3 separate regions of the Homo sapiens genome follow, and all the other regions are linked to region 3. The links come from fine-mapping of genetic effects on gene expression. A gene starts in region 3. Each other region holds a variant in brackets. All regions are shown on one strand. Distances are from middle to middle.

Region 1 (8,178 bases), 63 kb before region 3:
GAAACCTTTGAGCCCAAATATTCTGATCTTTATCAATTAATTCACATGCTGGTGAAGAAGGGAAGGCCACTAACTGGTTGCAAAAGGTAAATTGGAAGGATTTTCAAAAAGAGACTGAAGCAGAACATGAAAGGTTCACATTTTCACCAAATATCTCCAAGTTGCCATTCCCCAGGTCCTTCCTAAAAATATAGATTGGAGGATAATTCAGCATTGTACTAAAAAGCCAGACAAATCTGTCTTTGCTTAACTAAAATGGTTTGAGAGCCAGGTGTGGTAGTTCATGCCTGTAATCCCAGCACTTTGGGAGGCTGAGGCGGGTGAATCACTTGAGGTCAGGAGTTCGAGACCAGCCTGCCAACATGGTGAAACCCTGTCTCCACTAAAAATACAAAAATTAGCCAGGTGGCTACTCAGGAGGCTGAAGCAAAAGAATTGCTTGAACCCAGGAGGTGGAGGTTGCAGTGAGCTGAGATCCTGCCACTGCAATACAGCCTGGGAGACAGAGCGAGACTCTGTCTCACAAAGAAAAAAATAAAAAGAAAAATAGAAAAAAAAACAGCAGGGTAGTAGAAATATAATGCACACAAGAATGATAATCATGAAGACAATCTGATTCTACAAGAGTAAGGGAACCTATTCCATTAGAGAGCCAACTGAAAACATCAAATCCCAGTTCACACCCCAGGGTGTGGGGCCACGTGCCTGTAGTCCCAGCTACTTGGGAGGATTAGTAAGGAGGTTTGCTTGAATTCATGAGGTCAAGGCAGAAGTAAACCCTGATCATGCCACTGCACTCCAGCCTGGGTGACAGTGAGACCTTGTCTCAAAAACAAACAAACAAACAAACAAACAAAAACCCACAAAACCAAACAACAACAAATTGTCCCCTCACTCTGAAATGACAGTGGCAAACATCACTTTGCTATTGGAAAATTAATAGAAAAACACTCCCTTTTACTATCAACCTGGCTCTTTCTTTAACATGTCTGACCCATGGTTTAAAATGCCCAAAAGCTGATGTACTCAAATTATAATACACTTACCTGTTCTGCACCAGCATTTATTTTTGTCTGGAGGAGATCACCATCCATGGTCCTATAAATGTCTAACAGCATGGAATGATGAAGGGCAGTGTCTTTTAGGATATTTGGTTATATCTATATATATGGCTCTGAAGAAACCCAACGTTGGGTGAGTTCCCTCAAACTTTTCACTAGGCATGACCACTGCTCTATTTTAGATCGAGATTCTGTGGGGCAAAACCTGAGAATTATCTGCCTGGCTATCAAGAAGATAGCTCCTTGCATTTTTTGGGGGAGAACACTTTTGCTTCAAGGGAGTGTTTCCTCCCAGGATTAGAAATCTTTCTGTAACCTCAGGAAACATTGCTGATGAAAACCAGGCATGGTGTGCTGTACAACTTGTAGTAATCAGGCAGAAGTTAAAAGGAAAAGACAGGTTTCCCTGTACTTGGCTGACTCCAAGACCTGCCATAGATAGAGCCCTAGCAGATCCTCGGTAACACGATCTGAAAAGTCAGAGCCCCGAGGAATGCGTTCCGGAGACTCTCTCAACACAGCCCCTAGCAAAGATAAGAGGAAAAAACAACAAATGCCTTTACTACCTTCTCTTTCCCCCTTTCCATTTCTAATTATTCAAGTTTTGTTAAGTTCCCGATTTCCCTTCAGTGCAGCTGCAAGGTCACCAGCCATACTTGCATTGCAAGACCTGTGACAGTTTGATTAGCTGCCTTTCTTCTGCTTCTGTAAGCCCTCTTGCCTGCCCCACGAGTTTCGTGCCATCAAATTCCCGCCGCGCCATTCAAACTAGCCAACCCCCTTTCAGAAGTGTCTATAAAGTCAAGCCCTGTCTTTGTTCATGGCTCAGCTTTTGGATTTTAATCCACTGTGCCTGAGTGCAGTCAATAAATCCTCCTGTTCCACCTATCGGTCTCTCTGTTCTCCTGATTCCCACAACAGTAGTAGGGGACTGCGTTCACACTTTCCCCTGGTCTTTCATGGTATGAATAATAGACGGCATTTTTTTTTTTTTTTTTTTTTTTTGCCTATAGTCGCAGGCTCAGTCTCAGTGATTGTATGCTGTGGTCAGCTGTTTTTGTTTTTGTGACACCTTGTTTTCTTGTTTACTGTCCTGGGACAGATGTCTGTAGTCACTTGTTTCCTTGGGAGGCAAATTTCAGTCTCTGTGGGGGAGGTCTCCCATGTTAGCTGTGGTGGTACTTGGCAGGCAGAGCTCAGGGATCTAGGCTTCCCTGCTTTGTAGATTGCTCAATGGTCCCCAAGGCCTACTGGCTTTTAACACCACTTGAAAACCTTAGTGTTTTTCCGCTGTCCCCAGAATCACCTCTTACACAGCCTCTTTTTTTGTTTGTTTGACTTTTTCCCTGAGACAGAGTCTCACTGTATCTGGTGGCATCTTGGTTCAAGTGATCCTCCTACCACAGCCTCTGGAGTAGCAGAGGCACGAGTCACCACAGCCAGCTAATTTCTGTTGTTTTTGTTGTTGTGGTGGTTGTTTTGTTTTTTAAGAGTTGAAGTTTCTCCATGTTGCCCAGGTTGGTCTCCAACTCCTGGACTCAAATGATCCGCCCTACCTCAGCCTTCTAAAGCACTGGGATTACAGGTGTGATCCATCATACCTGGCCAGCCCCTGCTTTTCACTATAGCATCCATGGGAGTTTCTAGGATTTCCGTGCTGGGGGGAACGTGCACTCAGCTCATAGAGCCAAGTAGTAATTGTACTTGGAACTGGTGCCATGCTTCAGGGAGTGTTTATTCAATTTGCTAGGAGCCCATGAGGCACAGGTACATGGTGACTCAGTAGTTCCCACTGCACCCATCGCCCTCCTTGGTCCTCTCACTGTCTCTGGCAGGCAGTAACATTCTGTGTGAGCTCCGGTGCTGAAGACACCCAGGCAGGAAGGGTAGGGAAGGGCACCAGCCCCTTAGGTCCTGCACATTAGGGATCCAAGAAAGGTCTTGAAGAAACAGAAAGGGAGCATTGGGAGTAGATCAAAGTGAAAGAAAGAAATCCTAGGAGATTTCCTATCTGAAGGCACCATGAAGAGAAAGTCTGCCTCCTCTGGGCTGCATCCTCCCTTTGCAGGTGAACCGAGTTCTGGTCTCCATAGGAAACCAAAGCAGATAACTTTGTCCTGACTCCTAGTTAGGAAGCCAGGCTTTGTCTTCCCCTGTTTAATGCTTGATCCTGTAGTACTTGATTGTCTCTCCTGGGCTTTCTATGGATTCCAGGGATGCAACTGAGAAGTTTATTTTTAAAGCACTTTTCCTTGAAGTAAGAGTATTTTTGGCCAGGCGCAGTGGCTCACGCCTGTAATCCCAACACCTTGGGAGGCAGAGGTGGGCAGATTACTTGAGGTCAGGAGTT[T/C]GAGACCAGCCTGGCCAACATGGTGAAACTCTGTCTCTACTAAAAATACAAAAATTAGCTGGGTGTGTTGGTGCAGGCCTGTAGTCTCAGCTACTCATGAGGCTGAGGCGGGAGAATCCTGTGAACATGGGAAGTGGAAGTTGCAGTGAGCTGATGTCAAAAAAAATTTATTTCACTTTATTTTATTTATTTATTTATTTATTTATTTATTTAGAGACGGGGTCTCGCTCTGTTGCCCAGGCTGCAGTGCAGTGGCACCATCTCAGCTCACTGCAGGCTCCGCCTCCTGGGTTCACGCCATTCTCCCACCTCAGCCTCCGGAGTAGCTGGGACTACAGGCGCCCACCACCACACCCAGCTAATTTTGTTTTTGTATTTTTAGTAGAGTCAGGGTTTCACCATGTTAGCCAGGATGGTCTCGATCTCCTGACCTCATGATCCGTCCACCTTGGCCTCCCAAAGTGCTGGAATTACAGGCGTGAGCCACCACACCTGGCCTAAAAAAAAAAAAAAAAAGTATTTTAGAATCTTTTGGCAAAGGAAATGATTTCTGACTGACAGGTTTTGCACTTAAGACATTCAGGTGTGAGGAAAACACGAAAACCACTATGCTAGGGAAAGGAAATGCTGTTGAGAATGTCTCACAAGCACAAACTACATGTCAGCAGGTAGGTTTGACCCTCAGGTTGGGCACATTTTACTTTAAGCGCACTGTCGGTGGAACTTACAATGAATCTAAGACATTCATGATGTGTGTGTGTGTGTGTGTGTATGAGAGACAGAGAGACAGGGTCTTGCAATCTTGCCCATACTGGTCTCCAACTCTGGTCCTCAAGCGATCCTCCTGTCTCCTCCTCCCAAAGTGCTGGGACTACAGGCATGCACCACCTGGTCCAGCCCATTTTAATGTTTTTAACTTAAATACACATTCCAAAAATTATATAAGTACAGGAAGCCAACTTTATGCCAGTTTTACAAAAACAAAGTGGCAACATCCTAAAGTACTGAAAGAAATAAAGTTTTCCTAGAATTCCATGTCAAAGTGAAAAATCTTTCAAGAATGTGACTGAAATAAGGACATTTAAAGACATACAAAAAAATGAAAGAATTCAGCAACCCACACTACAAGGATACCAGACAGAAATCTGCATCTACACAAAGAAATGGAGACTACTGGAAATCGGTATGTACACAGTTAAATATACATGTTCTTATTATTTAAATCTTTTAAAATAATTTGACCGATTAAACAAAGGCAATAATAATGGATTCTGGGTTTTATAACATGTCTAAAATCAAATTACATGACAACACTAGCATAATGGCCAGAAGGGGAGGTATAATGTCACTAGATGGCACTGATAAAGATGTATTCTGGAAACCCTGAAGCCTTCACTGAAAAAGCAAAAGGAGGGAAAGAAGTCAGGGAGTGGTGGACCAGAAGAAAGAAAGAGTTATACCTAATAAGCCAACAAAGGAAAGAAAATGGAATGATATAAAAACCATGTAATCACTATGCTGGAACAACTGCTCTCCATGCACTCCAGCCTGGGAGACAGTGAAACCCTGCCTCAAAAAAAAAAAGCCCACCGTTAGGGCTGGGCAGGGTGGCTCATGCCTGTAATCCTAGCACTTGGGGAGGCCAACCTCGGGTTGATCACCTGAGGTCAGAAGTTCAAGACCAGCCTGGCCAATATGGCGAAACCCCATCTCTATTAAAATACAAAAAAATGAGCCAGGCATGGTGGCGGGTGCCTGTAATCCCAGGTACTTGGGAGGCTGAGGTAGGAGAATCGCTAGAACCCTAGTAGGGGAGATTGCAGTGAGCCGAGGTTGCGCCACTGCACTCCAGCCTGGGCAACAGAGCGAGACTCCGTATCCAAAAAAAAAAAAATCCTACACGTAAAAGGTCACCAAGGCTAGCAAAAATCACCTGGTGGCCATAAAGCAGACCATCCAGAGGCAAAACTCCTTATCTGAGGAATTTAGAGGCAATTAGAGTTCCTTACTATCTAAAGCAAGAATCTAGTTCCAGGCTTCTTTCCCAAAAATTTATAAGTAACTAGAATGTCTGCTTTTTTTTTTTTTTTTTTTGAGACAGAGTCTTGCTCTGTTTCCCAGGCTGGCGTGCAGTGGCACAATCTCGGCTCACTGCTACCTCCATCTCCTGGGTTCAAGCAATTCTCTGCCTCAGCCTCCCAAGTAGCTGGAATTACAGGTGCCCGCCACCATACCCAGCTAATTTTCGTATTTTTAGTAGAGACAAGGTTTCACCATCTTGGCCCGGCTGGTCCTGAACTCCTGACCTCGTGATCCACCGCCTTGGCCTCCCAAAGTGCTGGGATTACAGGCATGAGCCACCGTGCCCAGCCAGTAACTAGAATTTCTATACATCTCTGGAATACATGCCTATCAAAACTTGTGCAACCCTTGCTCACATTAAGGCACCAAAATGTCTACAAATGTAGTACATTGTGAGCCACCACAACCGGCCTACAAGTTTTTTTTTTTTAATCATTGGGTCAGGAGTGAATTGTTGGGCTGGTGGATGATGTCTGTAATCCCAGCACTTCGGGAGGCCGAGGTGGGTGGATCACTTGAAGTTAGGAATTCAAGACTAGTCTGGCCAACACACTGAAACCCCACCTCTACTAAAAATACAAAAATTAGCTGGGTGTGGTGGCAGGCGCCTGTAATCCCAGTTACTTGGGAGGCTGAGGCAGGAGAATTGCTTGAACCCAGGAGGCAGAGGTTGCAGTGAGCCGAGATTGCGCCAGTGTACTTCAGCCTGGGTGACAAGAGCGAAACTCCGTCTCAAAAAAAAAAAGGAAATCTTTTTTTTTTTTTTTTACAATATGGGCTTATTCTGTATTACTTTTCTGAAACTTTCACTTAATATATCGTAACCATCTGTCCAGTCATTGAACATTCTTCTATAACATTTGGAATGACATCATAGTGTGCCATTATATGAATAACCCATGGTTTATTATACAAGTCCCCTACTGCTGAATGTTTAGGTCTTTCTAACTTTTTGCTATTAAAGTCTGGCATGATAGAAAGACTCTGCAAGTTAGCCTTCAGATGCCCAGCAAATCCAGTTAACCAGAGCAATTACCTCTAAGCCTCCTGGTGAATGTCGTTTTGCTGATGGTGGGCAGAGTCCACCCCAGCCGAGCCGCTGGATTTGGCAGGCACTTGGCCTTAGCAACCTGAGGGTGGTAACTCCAATCAGTTGTTTCCCTGTTACCTGAGTTGCAGATTTAGAGCCCTCTGCAGTGAGCAGGTGAGCACCTGGCATGATTCTTTTCTGGCGGGTTGTCTTGGGGGTCACTGGGCCAGTCACCACCTGGTGACAGGACAGGGTGACCGGTGGGCGGCAGCACTGGGGATTCAAATGACCGCAGCCCGGTCAGGCTGAGCTGAGCAGAGCCAAGGACTCAGCACAGCAGGGAACGTAGGCTCTACACAGAGAGGGGAGCTGGAGGCCCCCCCAAGGAGGTTAAGTATGTGCCACCCTGCGGCAGGGTCCTATGGGCTTTGGGAGTGAGAGGGTCAAGGGGAGAGGAGCTGTGTTTGCCGCCCCCTGTTAAAACCTCAAGTGAGTCAGCACGGTGTAGAGGAAAGAGCATGGGATTGGAAGCCATTGAACTTCCTGCGTGTGTCCTTGGGCAAATGACTGCATGTCTCTGATCCTCAATCTCCCCTTCTATAAAATGGAGATGATCCTAGAACCTGCTTCACGGGAGTGTTCAGAGGGGACTGTGGACAGAGCGGGAACATAGAAGAGGAAGTAGGCGGCAGTGTGGTTCACAGCCAGCGCAGGCTGCCCGCAGGGTGCAGGTACTGTCACCAAGGGAGACCCAAGATGCCCTGGAGAGAGGGGCAAGGACACAGGCCTGAGCCCAGCCCTGGTGATATGAACACTGGAGTGGGCTTCACAGGGACAGGCAGCATCAGAACTGGACTGGGGAGGTCATGAGCCCACCAGGGCCTGGGTAGGGACATAGCAAGTCTGGGGACTCCAGACAGGGTCACACAGACCTGGGCCATGCTGGGCATCCAGGGACTGGCTGTGCATACTGGCAGATGTCAGTCAGCCCTCCTGCAGTTGGGCCAGGGACACCTCAGGGAAACTGTGACCTTCCTTCCAATCTTGGTAACATCACCCTTCCAACCCAAACCCCAGGGAATGGCCCGAATCTCTCCTGACAAACAGCTCTCAGCCCTGGTCCAGGCCACAGTCTTGCTTGCACTGGGCCGGGTTTCAGAGCCCGAAGGGCACACTGGCAGCCTTTAGTGCAGTGTTTCAGATGTCACAGACAGGTTCCTCTTTGACAAAGATGGAACTTCCACTGCTTCCCTCCTACCACGCAGGAAACACAGAAGCAACCATCAGCCGCGGGCCTGCTGGCCGTTCTCTCTGGGTACTGTGTTTGGAAAAAACACAAAATCATTAAATTAAACATGCTTTTTCAAACCAAACACATCCCTCTCTTAGCCCTAGAGATTCAGAGCTGCCTCTCCCTTTGAAAATGAATGATCTCGGCCGGGTGCGGTGGCTCACGCCTGTAATCCCAGTACTTTGGGAAGCCAAGACGAGTGGATCGCGAGGTCAGGAGTTCGAGACAAGCTTGGCCAATATGGTGAAACCCCGTCTCTACTAAAAATACAAAAATTTGGCCGGGCACAGTGGCTCACGCTTGTAATCCCAGCACTTTGGGAGGCCGAGGCGGGCAGATCATGAGGTCAGGAGATCGAGACCAC
Region 2 (8,178 bases), 37 kb before region 3:
TGAGAGTTAGGTTTCCACTCCCTTCCTCTGTGCCCTCATCACCCTCTGAGCCCTCACCTCCCTGGGTTCCTGGGCAACTCTGATCTCAGCCCCAAGGATACTAGACAAGCCCCCAACATTTCTAAATTTTTTGTAGAGATGGGGGTCTCACTATGTTGCCCATGCTGGTCTTGAACTCCTAGCTTCAAACACTCTTCCCACCTCAGCCTCCCAAATTGCTGGGATTACAGGCACAAGCCACTGTACCTGGCGCTATTAAAATTTAATTAAAAATTTGAAAAAGTGAAAATTCAGGCTGGGTGTGGTGGCTCACAACCCAGCTGGCTGGCCAACATGGTGAAACCCGGTTTCTACTAAAAATACAAAAATTAACCAGGCATGGTGGCATGCTCCTGTAATGCCAGCTACTCGGGAGGCTGAGGTGGGAGAATCACTTGAACCCCGGAGGCAGAGATTGCAATGAGCAAGGATAACACCACTGCACTCCAGGCTGGGAGACGTAGTGAGACTCCATCTCAAAAACAAACAAACAAAAAAGATGCGGTGGCTCACACCTGTAATCCCAGCACTTGGGGAGGCCGAGGTGGGCGGATCACGAGGTCAGGAGATCGAGACCATCCTGGCTAACACGGTGAAACCCCATCTCTACTAAAAATACAAAAACAAAATTAGCTGGGTGTGGTGGCGGGTGCCTGTAGTTCCAGCTACTCGGGAGGCTGAGGCGGGACAATGGTGTGAACCTGGGAGGCGAAGCTTGCAGTGAGCCAAGATTGCGCCATTGTACTCCTGCCTGGGTGACAGATCGAGACTCCATCTCAAAAAAAAAAAAAAGAAAAAGAAAAAAGAAAAAGAAAATTCAGTTCTTTAGTTGCCCTAGGCACATTTCAAGCACTCATCAACCACACATGGCCATAGAATGTTTCTGTCATCTCAGAGAGTTCTATTGACAGCGCTATTCTGGACCGTATTTCTTGGAGTTTTTTGTTTGTTTGTTTGTTTTCAGAGATGGGGTCTTGCTGTGTTGCTCAGGATGGTCTCAAACTCCTGGCCTCAAGCGATTCCCCTGCCTCGGCCTCCCAAAATGCTGAGATTACAGGCATAAGCCACCATGCCTAGCCTTGAAGATTGTTTTTTTCTTTTAATTTGAGACAGGGTCTCGTTCTGTCACCCAGGCTGGAGTACAGTGGTGCGATCTCAGTTCACTGCAACCTCCACCTCCTAGGCTTAAGTGATCCTCCCACCTCAGCCTCCTGAGTAGCTGGGACTACAGGCACACACCACCACGCCTGCCTAATTTTTCTGTTTTTTGTAGAGATGGGGTTTTGCCATGTTACCCAGGCTGATCTCTAACTCCTGAGCTCAAATGATCACCCATCTTGGCTTCCCAAAGTACTGGGATTATAGGTGTGAGCCATCACACCCGGCACCTTGAAGATTTTTAAGACAAGAAATTATCCACTTTTTTTTTTTTTCCGCAGTCTTGTTGCCCATGACACGATCTTGGCTTACTGCAACCTCCGCCTCCCAGGTTCAAGCAATTGCCTCAGCCTCCCTGGTAGCTGGGATTACAGATGCCTGCCAGCATGCCTGGCTAATTTTTATATTTTTAGTAGAGATGGGGTTCCACCATGTTGGCTAGGCTGGTGTCGAACTCCTGACCTCAGGTGATTCGCCCACCTCGGCCTCCCAAAGTGCTACATTACAGGCATGAGCCACCGTTCTTTGCACCTTGAAGATTTTTAAGACAAGAAATTATCCACTTAGCTGCCAGGTTGTTTTTGATATTTTGTTGTTTGGTTTTTCTCTTCATAAATGTAACCATCTAATGAAAAGTTTGAAAAATAATAGAAATAAAAAGACCTCGCCTTCTCACAGCCTCATCTGCCCATCCTAACTCATGTAGGGCACTGGTTTTCCTTCCCACTGTGTTGCCTGGCAGTGAGATAGCAAACGTTTCCTTCACACCTACTGTGTGCCAGGCTCTTGGCTGAGTGTTTTATACATACTCTGTGATTTAGTCTTCCTGTCAAACTTATGCAATTCAGAACTCTTTTGTTGTAAGCTTGAGAGGCTCGCTCAGACTCATACAGCATGTGTGGCTGGGGTGGCAGGGTGGGAATTGGAATTCAGGTCCATGGGAGAGTAAACCCAGGCTTTCCATGCCTGGAAAGGAGAAGGTCTTTTTAAGTAGTTGTGTTCACAGCAAACATCCCATTTTGCATTCTGTGAAATGTGGAGATGGGGGTCTCACTATGTTGCCCACGCTGGTCTTGAACTCCTAGCTTCAAACACTCCTCCCACCTCAGCCTCCCAAATTGCTGGGATTACAGGCATAAGCCACTGTGTCTGGCTCTATTAAAATTTAATTAAAAATTTTAAAAAGTGAAAATTCAGGCTGAGTGTGTTTTACTGAACAGCACGTTGTCAACTGGGCACAGTGGCTCACGCCTGTAATCCCAGCACTTTGGGAGACTAAGGCGGGTGGATCACTTGAGGTCAAGAGTTTGAGCCCAGCCTGGCCAACATGGCAAAACCCCATCTGTACTAAAAATTTTAAAAATTGGCCCGGCATAGTGGCTCACGCCTGTAATCCCAGCACTTTGGGAGGCCGAGGCGGGAGGACCACCTGAGTTCAGGAGTTTGAGACCAGCCTGACCAACATGGAGAAACCCTGTCTCTACTAAAAATACAAAATTGGCTGTCCGTGGTGGTGCATGCTTGTAATCCCAGCTACTTGGGAGGCTGAGGCAGGAGAATCGCTTGAACATGGGAGGCAGAGTTTGCGGTGAACCGAGATCACACTATTGCACTCCAGCCTGGGCAACAAGAGTGTCAAAAAAATAAATAAATAAAAGTACAAAATAAAAAAATAAAAATAAAAAAATTAGGGCTGGGTGTGCCCTTTTAGCCCAATTTTAGCCCAAAATTAGTATTTTGGGATACCGAGGCGGGCAGATCACTTGAGGTCAGGAGTTTGAGACCAGCCTGGCCAATATGGTGAAACCCCACTTCTAACTAAAAATGCAAAAATTAGCTGGGCGTGGTGATAGGTGCCTGTAATCCCAGCTACTCAGGAGGCTGAGGCAGGAGAATTGCTTGAACTCTGGAAGTGGAGGTTGCAGCAAGCTGAGATTGTGTCACTGCACTCCAGCCTGGGTGACAAAGTGAGACTCTGTCTAAAAAAAAAAAAAAAAAAAAAAATTGCTGGACGTGGTGGCTCACACCTGTAATCCCAGCACTTTGGGAGGCCGAGGCGGGCAGATCACGAGGTCAGGAGATCAAGACCATCCGGCTAACATGGTGAAAACCCGTCTCTACTAATAATACAAAAAATTAGCCGGGTGTGGTGGCAGGCGCCTATAGTCCCAGCTACTCAGGAGGCTGAGGCAGGAGAATGGCATGAACCTGGGAGGCAGAGCATGCAGTAAGCCGAGATCACGCCTGGGTGACAGAGCAAGACTCCGTCTCAAAAAAAAAAAAAGAAAATCACATCGGGAAAGTTTTTCGCACCTACCGCCAGTGGGGAACGTGGCAGCTCACGGCAAGTCTTTGGGGTCCCAGTTGTTCCCTTCTCCTCCCTCCCCTGCCGTGGCCACCATGTGACTGTGTAGCAGGAAGCCATGGGATCTGCAGACTCAGCTCTATCAGGCTTCCCAGAATTGAGGGGCATGGGTTGTTATAGGGGACATTTCCTGGTCACGTGGCCTAGCAGGGTTGGTGGCACAATTGCCCATGTATCCCAGGAGCCTAACCTGGCCTCTTCTACCTGGTAGGGTGCTTGGAGATAAAGCCAGCACCTCCATCCACTCCAAGTGGATGGGTTGGGGAGAAGGAAAGCCAGGTTCTTCTGCTGGAGGATGTGAGTGAAATGAGTCAGCTACGGGCAGGGTCAGGGAAGGCTTCCTGGAGGCAGGTTCCTTGGAAAACGGGAGATTATAGCTCATGGCTAGAGGAGCAGCCAGCCACCTTCCCTGCAGAGAGCAGCCCCAGCATCCCCTCTGCTTGTCCTGAAGGGAGAAGAGCAACCTGGCCCACAGCCTGCAGGTGGCCCAGCAGCAGGCCAAGGAGCTGCGGCAGGAGCGGAAGAAGCTGCAGGCTGCCCAGGAGGAGCTGCGGCGCCAGCGGTACTGGCTGGGGGAAGAGCAGGAGGACGCAGTGCAGGATGGTGTGCGGGTGCGCCGGGAGCTTGAGCACAGGTGAACAGCATCTCGCCACCCTGCCAGGGCCCTTCAAATGTGCCTCAGGTCCCCTGACAGTGCCCCGGGGGTTAGGGAGCACCCACTGGGTCCTGGGCCTCCTACCATCTGGACCCCTCTGATGTCGGGTTTTCTAACCAGACCCATTGCAGGAAATTGGGGCTCAGGGAGGTGTACTCACTTACCTGGGGTCAGAGAACTAGTTAAAAGGTAGAACTTGGATGATAATAACAAGAATAATTAAAATAACAGTAGTAATATTAACGATAGTATTTTTTAAATTAAGTTATGATCATAATAATATCCTTACT[G/A]ATTTCACTAAGTGCCAGATACCATTTTAAGCAATTCAGTTCTCTCATTTAACCTATGATAACTGTGACATAGAAGCTGTTATCTTCATTTTATGGACGGTAAACTGAGGCACAGAGAAGCCATGTCACTTGCCCCAGGTCACACAGCTAGTTAGAAGAGCCAGGATTTGAACCCAGACATTCTGCCTTTAGAGTTAACCTCTTCACCACTGCGCTGCTTACCTCTCAGGGACGTGATCGCTGATGATGTTTAGTAGACTGTGGTGGAGCATGTTATTCTTGTTTCTGAAGGTCCTTGGGGAGATGTGTCAGGCACTATTTTAAGCACATGTGAAGTTTGTAGCCTTAAAACAGGCTGGGCACGGTGGCTCACGCCTGTAATCCCAGCACTTTGGGAGGCCGAGGCAGGCGAATCGCCTGAGGTCAGGAGTTCGAGACCAGCCTGGTCAACATGGGGAAACCCTGTCTGTACTAAAACTACAAAAATTAGCCAGGCGTGGTGGTGCATGCCTGTAATCCCAGCTACTCGGGAGACTGAGGCAGGAGAATGGCTTGAACCCAGGAGGCGGAGGTTGCAGTGAGCTGAGATCTCACCACTGTACTCCAGCCTGAGCGACAGAGCGAGACTCTGTCTCAAAGAAAACAAAGAAACTATGTGACAAGGTAGGTGTTACCTCATTTTGCAGATGTGGAAACGGAGGCCCAGGGTCATGGAGCTAAGCAGTAGTGGGCTTGGTTGCCCTGTGGCTCAGGCTGTTTCTCTCCAAACTCCTGCCTCAGGCCTGGTCCACAGCCAAGCATCTCGCTGGCTGTGGGAGATTCGGGGCAGGAAAGTGACATGGGCCACCCACCTGCCCTCTGTCCTGCAGCCATAGACAACTGGAGCAGCTGGAAGGGAAGCGCTCAGTCCTGGCCAAGGAGCTGGTGGAGGTGAGGGAGGCGCTGAGCCGCGCCACACTGCAACGGGACATGCTGCAGGCCGAGAAGGCCGAGGTGGCCGAGGCGCTGACCAAGGTGGGTCCCTGTTGGCTGCACAACCACAAACCTACATCTGACCCCCAGCCCCAAGCCTTCTCACTCTGGCACAAACTGGTCCCAGTGTCAGGCAGACCTCTGAGCCTGGTCACAGACTGACCCCTTCCTTCTGGATACAGGCTGATCTTTGTCACAGACCACAGACCTCTGGACCTCTGGTCCCAGCCATAAGTGGACTGACCTCTCTTTATGGCCGTATCCCTGCTGTTCTGGATGCTCCTGGGGGCAGTGCCTATAGCTCAGGGTCATCCTGAGATTCAGCTCCTGGGGTCTGAGAGTTGTGGCCACAGCGCAGAGGGTCCTTGGCGGGGGGGCCTGCGCTGTCCGCTGCAGCCTGGGCTCTGAGCAGTGCTATCCCTAGACCTTACTCAGGGGATCCTCTGAACTCTGGCCCTGCCCTCCAGGCTGAGGGCAGAGGAGGCCTCCCTGCAGGACTCCCTGTCCAAGCTGAGCGCCCTCAACGAGAGCCTTGCTCAGGACAAGTTGGATCTGAACCGCCTTGTCACCCAGGTACGCTGTGCACCTGCGGGCCCACCTGCCTTGCCCACCCGTCCTCCCCACTCAGTAAGGCACCCCGGGCCCAGCCCTGTACCTGTCTTGGCCCCTGCCTCCCTTTCTGTCTCTGGTTCTCTGTCTGTCTCTGTCTGTCTATCCTCTCTAGGCATCAAAGCACAGAAGCTCCATGGGCCCTCCTCATCTCTCCCTCCCCAGTGTCCCACACACCCAAGGGCCCTGTCCCTCATTGCCTGGGAGCCTCCCCTGGGCTATTGTGGCTGGTGGGTGGGTGGAGGAGGCGTCCTGGTCCTGGGAGGGATGCCCTGCTCACGAGGCCCCACTCCTACCCAGGCCACAGCTGGAGGAAGAAAAGTGCGCCCTGCAGGGCCGGCAGCGGCAGGCGAAGCAGGAGGCCACAGTGGCACGGGAAGAGCAGGAGCGGCTGGAGGCGCTGCGGTTGGAACAGGAGGTGGCGCGGCAGGGCCTGGAGGGCTCCCTATGAGCGGCGGAGCAGGCCCAGGAGGCAGTGGAGCAGCAGCTCCCCACGCTGCATCATGAGTGCAGCCGGCTGCAGGAGCAGCTAGCGCAGGTGGGCCAAGCTGTGTGTGGGGTGGTGTGGAGAGCATGTGGGGCAGGCTGGGCTCCCAGCCCCCTGCATCCAGTCCTGGGTTAAGTCACAGGCACTGGAGCCTGCTTCTTGGTTAAATCCAGCCCCACTTCTGCTAGCTGGGGACCTTGGACAAGCTGCCCAACCTCCCCATACCTCAGTTGCCCCATCTATAGCATGGGGCTAGCTGGGTGCAGTGGCTCACGCCTATAATCCCAGCACTTTGGGAGGCCGAGGCGGGTGGATCACCTGAGGTCGGGAGATCAAGACCATCCTGGCTAACACGGTGAAACCCTATCTCTACAAAAAATTAGCTGGGTGTGGTGGCACGCGCCTGTAGTCCCAGCTACTCAGGAGGCTGAGGCAGGAGAATCGCTTGAACCCAGGAGGCAGAGGTTGCAGTGAGCCGAGATCGTGCCACTGCACTCCAGCCTGGGCAACAGAACGAGACTCTGTCTCAAATAATAATAATAATAATAATAATAATAATAATAATGATACAGATTAATAATAGGTCGAGACTTTTTAGAATTGGAATCTTAGACTTTTGGGAACATCACATCTGGAAGAGACCTTAATGTCTCATTTTCAGGGATCCAGGGACCTTCATGCAAGGTCTATCCTGGAGTGCCTGGGTTTCTGGGAGGGGCCTCTAGAGGATGGGGTAGGGGGTGCAAGAAGCAGGGTGCAGGTCTCCACCTTGAGGCCTGCTGAGCAGCTGCACTTGGGTCTGTTTTATATATTCAGCTTCTCTTCTTAGAGTAATACAAGGGTTCTGTTACTCCCAAAGCTGAGTGAGGGCCCTCTTTTTTGTTGTTGGTTTTTGTTTTGTTTTGTTTTGTTTGAGACAGAGTCTTGCTCTGTTGCCCAGGCTGGAGTGCAGTGGCATGATCTGGGCTCACTGCAACCTCCGCCTCCGGGGTTTAAGCTGTTCGCCTGCCTCAGCGTCCCAAGTAGCAGGGACTACAGGCGTGCACCACCATGCCCGGCTAATTTTTGTATTTTTAGTAGAGACAGGGTTTCACCACCTTGGCCAGGCTGGTCTTGAACTCTTGACCTCAAGTGATCCACCTGCCAAAGTGCTGGGATTATAGGCGTGCACCACCGTGTCCGGCCGGGCCCTGGTTTTTGTACACACGTGCATTGCAGAGCTAGAGAAGGTCATGACTTGCCCAAGCACATATAGCACATCAGGGCAGACCCTGGGCTCGAACCCAGGCTTTCTGCCAGGACTGGGTTAGGCCCAGAGTTGGGGTGCTGCACGATCAACAAGCTGGGGGATGCTGGGAGTTCTGCTGAGTCTCTGGGTGGGGGCCAGCTCTCCCAGCAGCTGAGCTGGCGGGAGCAGAAGCTGGAGGAGGCCCAGGGGGTTGGCCCAGTGGCAGGTGGAGGCGCTGGAGCCAGCAGCCCGCGGGGTATCCGGTTCCACAACTACGCGCCGCGCCCCCGCGCCCGTGTGCGGGATTCACCCAGCTGACACTCTCCCGGTCCCAGAAGGTGCAGCAGCCGGCGGGTTTTGAGAGTCCCAGGTGCC
Region 3 (8,178 bases):
GAGTTCAAGAACAGCCTGGCCAATATGGTGAAACCCCGTCTCTACTAAAAGTACAAAAAAAATTAGCTGGGCGTGGTGGGGGGGCGCCTGTAATCCCAGCTACCCGAGAGGCTGAGGCAGAGAATTGCTTGAACCTGTGAGGCAGAGGTTGTGGTGAGCTGAGATCGTGCCACTGCACTCCAGCCTGGGTGACAGAGCAAGACTCCATCTAAAAACAAATGATTTTTTAAAATAAAGTCGCAGTTACCAAATTCCTCAGAGAACGAGGTGTTACCATTCTCTTATGACACTACCTGGGGTGTCCCAGCAATTCTCCAGCTTAAAGTCTCTGGTCTGGCCATGGCAGCTGCCTCTCCAAACTCCTCTGCCGCCAGTACCCAAGTTCCCGAAGAACACATCAATGCTTTGGGTTGCCTCGCAGTCCGTAAAGCATTACAGAAATATCTGCTCACTTCCTATTCTCCAACAATCTTATGAAGGAGGAACTAATATGATCCCCATTTCAACAAGGAGGAGGCCAAGGCCCCAGAGGTCATGTGGCTCACCCCACATCCAGCAGCTCAGGCAGAACATAGTTCTGAGAAGAGGCAGCCAGTTCTCTCTCTAAACTTTTGCACTTTCTCTTCTGCTCTACAAAGGAAAATCTCTACATATTAGAAAAAATAAATGACCGAATGTTGTGGCACCTGACTGAGCAGACACTGTGTCCGACCCCACTAGGGGTCTCGGCTGGGGGATTCCAGGTGCACTGCCCTCCACAGCTCACCCAGAGGCACAGGTGGCCCAGGACTTGTGAAGTTTCCCCCAAGACGATCTCTGCCAGCTGACCCCAACACAACCCAGCTCAGCTCGTCCTCTCACTACAGAAAGAGCTGAGTAGGACAGTTTCCAGCTTCTTCGGTTAATGGGTGTGGTCAGCTCTGGGAGTTACCGCTGCATTGATAAACAATTCCTCAGTAGGAAGCAGAGCCCAGCGGCAGAGGGCTGTGCATCCTCACCCGCCTGTCTTCAAGGCCACTTCCAGGGCTTCCTACTTCCTACCAGGACCAAGCTGCGGTCTCCTCTCCTTGGCCCCCACATTTTCCTGAGGACTCCTAAAAGGAACTAGTGTTTGACATGAAATACTCATTTTTACACCTGGAGACGGTACTTTCTACAACTAAGGTGGGGGAATGGTACAGCTTAAAGGTACACACACGTCTCTGATTTTTCAGGACAGGTTCCCATGACCCCTGAGCAGCCTGGCCAGACCAGGCCACCTCTCCCTTCATAAAGTGGGGTGCGGCCCCTCAGCTTGATGCAGCCTCCCTTCCGGTTACCTGACGTCCTGTCCTCCAGCTTGATGTAGGCCATCTGTCCCTTTGCAGTGATCCTCAGCCGGCCACTCCATGATGGCTGGTCCAGCTGCCACTCCGCAGCCCTAAGGGGACAAACACCACTGAATCTCTGCCAGAGGCTCCTGCTGTGTGACCCCAATGCTGGGAATGGAAAGGGCTGCTTATTCTAGCCCAAGAGTTGGCAAACATTTTCTGTAAAGAGTCAGACAGTAAATATCTTTGGCTCTACAGGCCACACAGCCTGTCACAACAAGGCAGCTCGGCTGCTGTAGGGTAAAATCAGTATAGAACATGCACGTGGTGATGCTTTAGGTATCTTAACTATTTTCTACTGAGCACAGCTGTATTTCAATCAAAGTGTAGACACTGAAATCTGAAATTCATGTAATGTTCCCAGTATGAAATACTCTCCTTTAAAAATTTTCCAAACCATTTAAAAAATGTAAAAACTATTCTTAGGTGTGAACCATACAAAAACACACTGGGTTGTCACTTGGTGACCCCCTCTCTAGACCACAGTGTCCTCCTCCACGTAGGACTTCCTTCCAGTTTCCTTTCTATAGAAGCAGCAGCTGCAGGGGCCTGATTCTGTTTCTGACACTGCTTGACTGCAGCAGTCAGAGCGACCATTTGAGACCAGTGAGACTATCTTGAAAGAAAAAGACAGCATGGAACAATCACCAGAAGAGAAAAGGAGAACAACAGTACATGTGAGAAAAGTGAATGGGTCCTTAGGAAGAAACCCAGGAAACCATGAACCTACAGCAATGCCTCTTTTGGCTCTAATTTGTTTGAGACGGGGTCTCACTCTGTCACCCGGGCTGAAGTGCAGTGGCGCAACTACGGCTCACTGAAGCCTCAACCTCCTGAGCTCAAGAGATCCTCCCACCTCAGCCTCCTGAGTAGCTGGGACTACAGGTGTGTACCAACACACCAGGCCAATTAAAAAAAATTATAGAGATAGGGTCTATGTTGCCCAGGCTGGTCCTGAAGTCTTGGGCTCAAGGGATCCTTCCACCGAGGCTTCCCAAAGTGTTGGGATTACAGGCGTGAGCCACCACAGCCAGCTGTTTTGACTCTTTTAAAGCATTAACTTCACATTTTAGTTCTAAGAAAAGGTCAGTTAAATCCCCAAATAGCAAGAACCGCAGGTGTTTCCAGGAGGCTTTTCTTAGAAGTCCCTATGCCAGTTCTCAAGAACCCTGGACGCGGCTGTCTTGAGGGCTGCACAAATGCAGATTCTCAATTCACAAATCAGCAGACTCAGTTCCTGTTCCTCTTACCAGGCCTGAGATTCAGGCTAAGGAGAGCTCCAAGACTTAAGTGCAGGCACTGGTAGTTTCCTCTAAGCTAAACCAGCCAGCCCTGACAATTCATAACCTCGCTCTCTGGGGCACCAAGAGGAACCAAATCCATCCTACTAAAGACCCAATAGGGGGCCGGGCGCGGTGGATCCTGCCTGTAATCCCAGCACTTTGGGAGGCCGAGGCGAGTGGACCACCTGAGGTAGGGAGTTCGAGACCAGCCTGACCAACATGGAGAAATCTCATCTCTACTAAAAACACAAAATTAGTCGGGTGTGGTGGTGTATGGCTGTAATCCCAGCTACTCGGGAGGCTGAGGCAGGAGAATCGCTTGAATCCGGGAGGCGGAGGTTGCAGTGAGCCGAGATCGCACCATTGCACTCTAGCCTGGACAACAAGAGGGAAACTCTGTCTCAAAAAAAAAAAAAAAAGACCCAACAGGAGATGGGGCTAGACGACCATCAATGGTTTGATGGTCCAACCACAGTTTGATGACAGAAAACAAATGTATTTTGGTTATTGTTGTTTTTGTTTTTATACTATTTTAAAATATGTCATGAATGTAATGTTCACTAACGCATCTTTTCACCATAAGATCAGCTATGAGCCCACGGTAACACAACTGGAAAGTAACAAGAGGAAATGTGGACGTTCCATCATTCTTGGGGTGCAGACCAATCCTGTATTTCCGAAAAACTTGGACAACCATCGCCTTCAAGAGCCACCCAGGCCCCCGCAAATACGAGCACTCCCCACCACCACTCAGTGGCACAAAATAGCCATAGGCCAGGTTGTCTGTATGAAGTGTATCTTTTTTCTTTTAATATTTTTCGTCGTTTTGATAGATAACGCATACAAAGAGTAGTAAAACGCAAACAGCACAAAAGGGAAAGGAAGTTTCCTTCCAAGGGCGGTTCCCCTCCCCTAGGGCAGTTTCCTGTGTTCCTTTGCAGAGATACTCAGTATGTTTACAAGCGTGTGTGTTTATTCGTCTCAGGTAGAGACCAGAGAAATATAGAAGGGGTCCTCCCAACTGCTCCAGGCTGTGATCAAGGGTGAAATTCGTGCGAAGGGATCTGGGTAGGAAGGGGTCCCTGGGCTTCGACCGTCACCTTAAAGCTCCCCGGGACCGGTCCTTTCAGCCGGCTCTGGGCTCCCTCCCCTCCTCTCGGGGATTTCCGTCTGTGATAGGGCACCTCCCCGCTTAAGGCTTTTCGAGGATCCCTTCAAGGCCACCGGTTAGCGCTGAAAGAGAAGCGTCTGTGACATCACCACCCCCGACCAAGTTTAGGGTACCCGGCAGCCCACCGGGGTCCCTAAGCGCTAGATACGGCTTTAACGCCCTCCCCGCCGCCAGGAGTCCCGTGCGTCGAACTGAGACGGGCGAAACTCTGGATCCACCTCCCTGCTCGGGCCTGGAACTGGAAGAAGCAGCAGCATTAGCTCCCCCTCGCCCCAAAACTGGCCAGGGCTGTCCTCGGTTCCCGCAGTGGGTGTGTCCGGGTGGCGGAGAAAGGGTTAAATTGGAGCTAGCCTGGTCTGGCGGTGGGTAGTCACCTGTAGCCACGGTTGGTAGCCCGCGGAGGGATGCGGTAGACGTGGACGTCAGGCTTGACACAGAGCACCGACTCGTACCCGCTCTCCTCCATCGCGACGCCTGGAGCCCACCGAACTTCCGGCGACTTCCACCGTTCCTCTGTCCGACGGACGGAAGCGGTGCGACTCTCTGACCAGGTTTCGGCTAGAGCGGCAGCTCGCGGGCCTCAGCACCGCCTCGTTTGTGCGCCCTCTGCTGGAAACCCGGCTCAAGACACGTGGCGGGCGACCTCCGGAGGCTTCTCCCTCCCTCCAGAGGCTTCTCCTTCCCTCCAGACACCCTCCGACGCAAAGAAAGCGCCCTGCGCCCGCCATGGACAGACCCCTCTGTAACCCGTGGTCTGGGTGTGGATCATCCCCATCGCTTCAGTTTCTTAGGCCTGGGGCCCAGTTGACCGAGAGGCAAAGCTGTAGCCCACCCTGCAGTATCTCTGTCCTCCAGCCTTTGCCTCGGCGCCTCCTCTGCCTGAATATCCTTCCCTCTCCTGACTGTAAGGCTCAGCTGGCACCTGACCCACCAGACTAAATAGATGCCATTACCCTACCACCCTCCATGCTTCCCCTAGGGGAACCCACTTATATGCTCAGGGCCCCGTGTGGCCAAACCTCAACAACGAGTTGTATTCAAAGAAGTAAAGTTTAGTAACACAAGTAATTTAAGAAGAATTCCAGGCCGGGCTTGGTAGCTCACGCCTGTAATCCCAGCACTTTGGGAGGCTGAGGCGGGCGGATCACCTGAGGTCAGGAGTTCGAGACCAGCCTGGCCAACATGGTGAAACCCCGTCTCTACTAAAAATACAAAAATTAGCCGGGCTTGGTGGCGTGTGTCTGTAGTCCTAGCTAGTTGGGAGACTGAGGCACTAGAATCGCTTGAACCCGGAATGCGGAAGTTGCAGTGAGCTGAAATTGTGCCACTGCACCTCAGCCTGGGTGACAGAGCGGGACTCTGTCTCAAAAAAAAAAAAAAAGAAGAAGAAGAATTCCAGTCTTAACTTCGATTTCTCCCAGAATATTCTGGGAGATACAATGTCTACCCTAGCCAAATTCTCAAAATCCCTCCTTCCCTACCATTCTCTCATTGAGTTGAGTGCCTGCAATGTGCCAGCCCCTATGTGGGGGTGAAGCTGATCCCAAACTTCTGATTCACTGAATACCCCAAACTTTCCCCACCCCTTCTTTCCTTTTCTCTCTCACTCTCCTTCTCCTTTTTACTTTTTTTTTTTTTTTTCTTCAGACAAAGTCTCACTCTGCCGCCCAGGCTGGAGTGCAGTGGTGCAATCTCGGCTCACTGCAACCTCCACCTCCCGGGTTCAAGCGATTCTCCTGCCTCAGCCTCCCGAGTAGCTGGGATTACAGGCACCCACCACCAAGCCTGGCTAGTTTTTGTATTTTTTTGGTAGAGACGGGGGTTTCATCTGGTTGGCCAAGCTGATCTTGAACTCCTGACCTCAAGTGATCCGCCCACTTCGGCCTCCCAAGTGCTGGGATTACAGGCGTGAGCCACCACGACTGGCCATTTCTACTCATTTTTTATAAGCTTTTTATTATAGGATTGATCTAACCACTTACATTTTTATTGTAAAATATACATAACATAAAATTTACCATTTTAAGTGTACAATGCTGTGAAATTAAGTACATTCACAATATTGTGCAACTATATCATGCTTTCCAGAACTTTTCATCATCCCAAACAGAAACTCCACACCCATTAGCAATAACTTCCCATTTCCTTCTGCTCCATCCCTTAGTAACCTCTGTTTTACTTTCTGTCTCTATGAATTTGCCTTTTCTAGATACCTCTTATAAGTGGAATCATACAATATTGGGCTTTTGTGTTTCTTATTTCACTTAGCATCAAGTTTTCAAGGTTCTTTCATGTAGCATGGATCAGAATTTCATTCCTTTTAATGGAGGGATAATATTCCATTGCATGTATATACCATATTTTGTTTATCCATTCATCTGTCAACAATTGGGATGTTATCACCTTTTGGTATTGGGAATCGGGCTACTATGAGCATTGGTGTTCAAACACTTGTTCTAGTCCTGTTTTCCATTTTCTTGAGTGTATACATAGGAGTGAAACTGCTGAGTTATACAATAATGCTATGTTTAGTGGTTTTGTTTTGTTTTGTTTTGTTTGAAACAGCATCTCACTCTGTTGCCCAGGCTGGAAAGCACTGGCATGATCATGGCTCACTGCAGCCTCAACCTCCCAGGCTCAAGTGATCCTCCCAACTCAGCCTCCCAAGTAGCTGGGACTACAGGTGTGAACCACCATGTCCGGCCTTGCTCACCTTTTTGAGGAGCCTCCAAACTGTCTTCCACAGCAGCAGCACCATTTACGTTCACAAGGGTTTCAATTTCTTCACATTTTTGCAAATATTGGTTATTTTTCTTTTCTTTTCTTTTCTTTTTCTTTTCTTTTTTTTTTTTTTTTTAGACAGGGTCTCTCTCTTTCTTTCTCTCTCTGTCACCCCACACTGGAGTGCAATGGTGCGATCATCACTCACTGCAGCCTCAAATTCCCGGGCTCAAGGGATCCTCCTGCCTCAACCTTTTGAGTAGCTGGGCCTACAGGCACACACCACCCTACCCTGCTATTTTTCTTACTTTTTGTAGAGACGGGGGTCTTGCTATGTTGCCCAGGCTGGTCTTGAATTCCTGTCTTCAAGAGATCCTCCTGCCTCAGCCTTCCAAAGTGCTAGGATTATAGGCATGAGCCACCATACCTGGCCTTATTTTCCAATTTTTTTTTTTTTGAGACTAAGTCTCACTCTACCACCCAGGCTGGAAGACAGTGGCATGATCTCAGCTCACTGCAACTTCTGCCTCCCAGGTTCAAGTGATTCTCGTGCCTCAGCCTCCTAAGTAGCTGGGATTACAGGCATGCGCCACCATGCCTGGCTAATTTTTGTATTTTTAGTAGAGACGGGGTTTCACCATGTTGGCCAGGCTGGTCTATAACTCGACCTCAAGTGATCCACCCACCTCGGCCTCCCAAAGTGCTGGGATTACAGGTGTGAGCCACCGCACCCAGCCATTCAGAGCACTTTCAGTTCTGTTCAGTCTAACAAAGACAGGCATCGAGCACATACCCTATGCCAGGTGCTGAGTACTGGGGTCACTGGGATGTGGCCAATCCAGCTCCTACCATCCTGGAGCTCGCAGACTGGAGGAGACAGAGAGAAAAGCAGTCATTGGCAAAGCAGAATGAAAGGTACTGTAATGAAGCAAATTCACAGGGGCCTGTGGGAGCAAAGAGAAGAAACCCCACACAGTCTGGGGAGAGTCAGGGAAGGCTTTCTGGGAGAGAGTACCCTGGCCCAATAATCACTGTGAGGTTGGCAAGGCAACGATTGTTATCTTCATTGTGTAATGGGGGCCACTGAACCAGTGACAAGCTGGGGGAAATGACACTGTCCAGTAGTTGGAGGTCACACAGCCCCTTGCCTTATTCTCAAACCCTAACCACATGGCTGGATATTCCTGAAATGCATTCCTAAACCTCTGCTGCTGAGAATAATTGGACCTGCCATCTATTCCCAGTTTAACTGCCCTGTATACCAAACAAATCCAATTCAAGCCAACAGGCAAAGTATAGGCTCAGACAGAGCCCATCCTATGTGCAAGGCGGTGAGCAGGGGTGGAAAATCTCACTGTGACTCATCCAGCTGATTTCTGGTAGGTGCAGGGCCAAGGTGGGGTGTAAGGTGAACAAGCTTTCCCTGACGGCCTCCAGACATATATATGATATGCCACTTATCTTTATCTGCTGTATTTTCCTGCCATCATAGATATTTCCAAGAGAAATTCTCCCATTTTTCAGATGAGGAAACCACTTATAAAAGGGGCACTCAATACCCAAAGAATTTTGAAAAAGAACAAAGTTGGAGGACTCACACTTCCTGATTTCAAAACTTTTTATTTATTTATTT

Evidence for each region.
Region 1: its variant is fine-mapped to the expression of NECAP2 in whole blood (TOPMed, PIP above 0.99).
Region 2: its variant is fine-mapped to the expression of NECAP2 in whole blood (TOPMed, PIP above 0.99). The same link has a PIP of 0.9 or more in T cells and blood mononuclear cells.

Annotation. Positions count from the first base shown.
Region 1 is chr1:16,500,280-16,508,457 of GRCh38, reverse strand. No RefSeq gene overlaps it. Among named protein-coding and RNA genes, the nearest start is that of RNU1-1, 9.9 kb to the left of the region's middle. The variant T/C (reference allele first, on the strand shown) is at 3,412.
Region 2 is chr1:16,474,273-16,482,450 of GRCh38, reverse strand. It overlaps the pseudogene CROCCP3. Among named protein-coding and RNA genes, the nearest start is that of LINC01772, 17 kb to the right of the region's middle. The variant G/A (reference allele first, on the strand shown) is at 4,508.
Region 3 is chr1:16,436,874-16,445,051 of GRCh38, reverse strand. NECAP2 (NECAP endocytosis associated 2) reads right to left here and starts at 4,328. Exons shown (of 8, transcript NM_018090.5): 1 at 4,199-4,328; 2 at 1,320-1,420. The coding sequence starts at 4,290. It overlaps SPATA21 (spermatogenesis associated 21), which reads left to right and starts at 7,628. Exons shown (of 13, transcript NM_198546.1): 1 at 7,628-7,924. RefSeq lists a silencer at 6,728-6,898.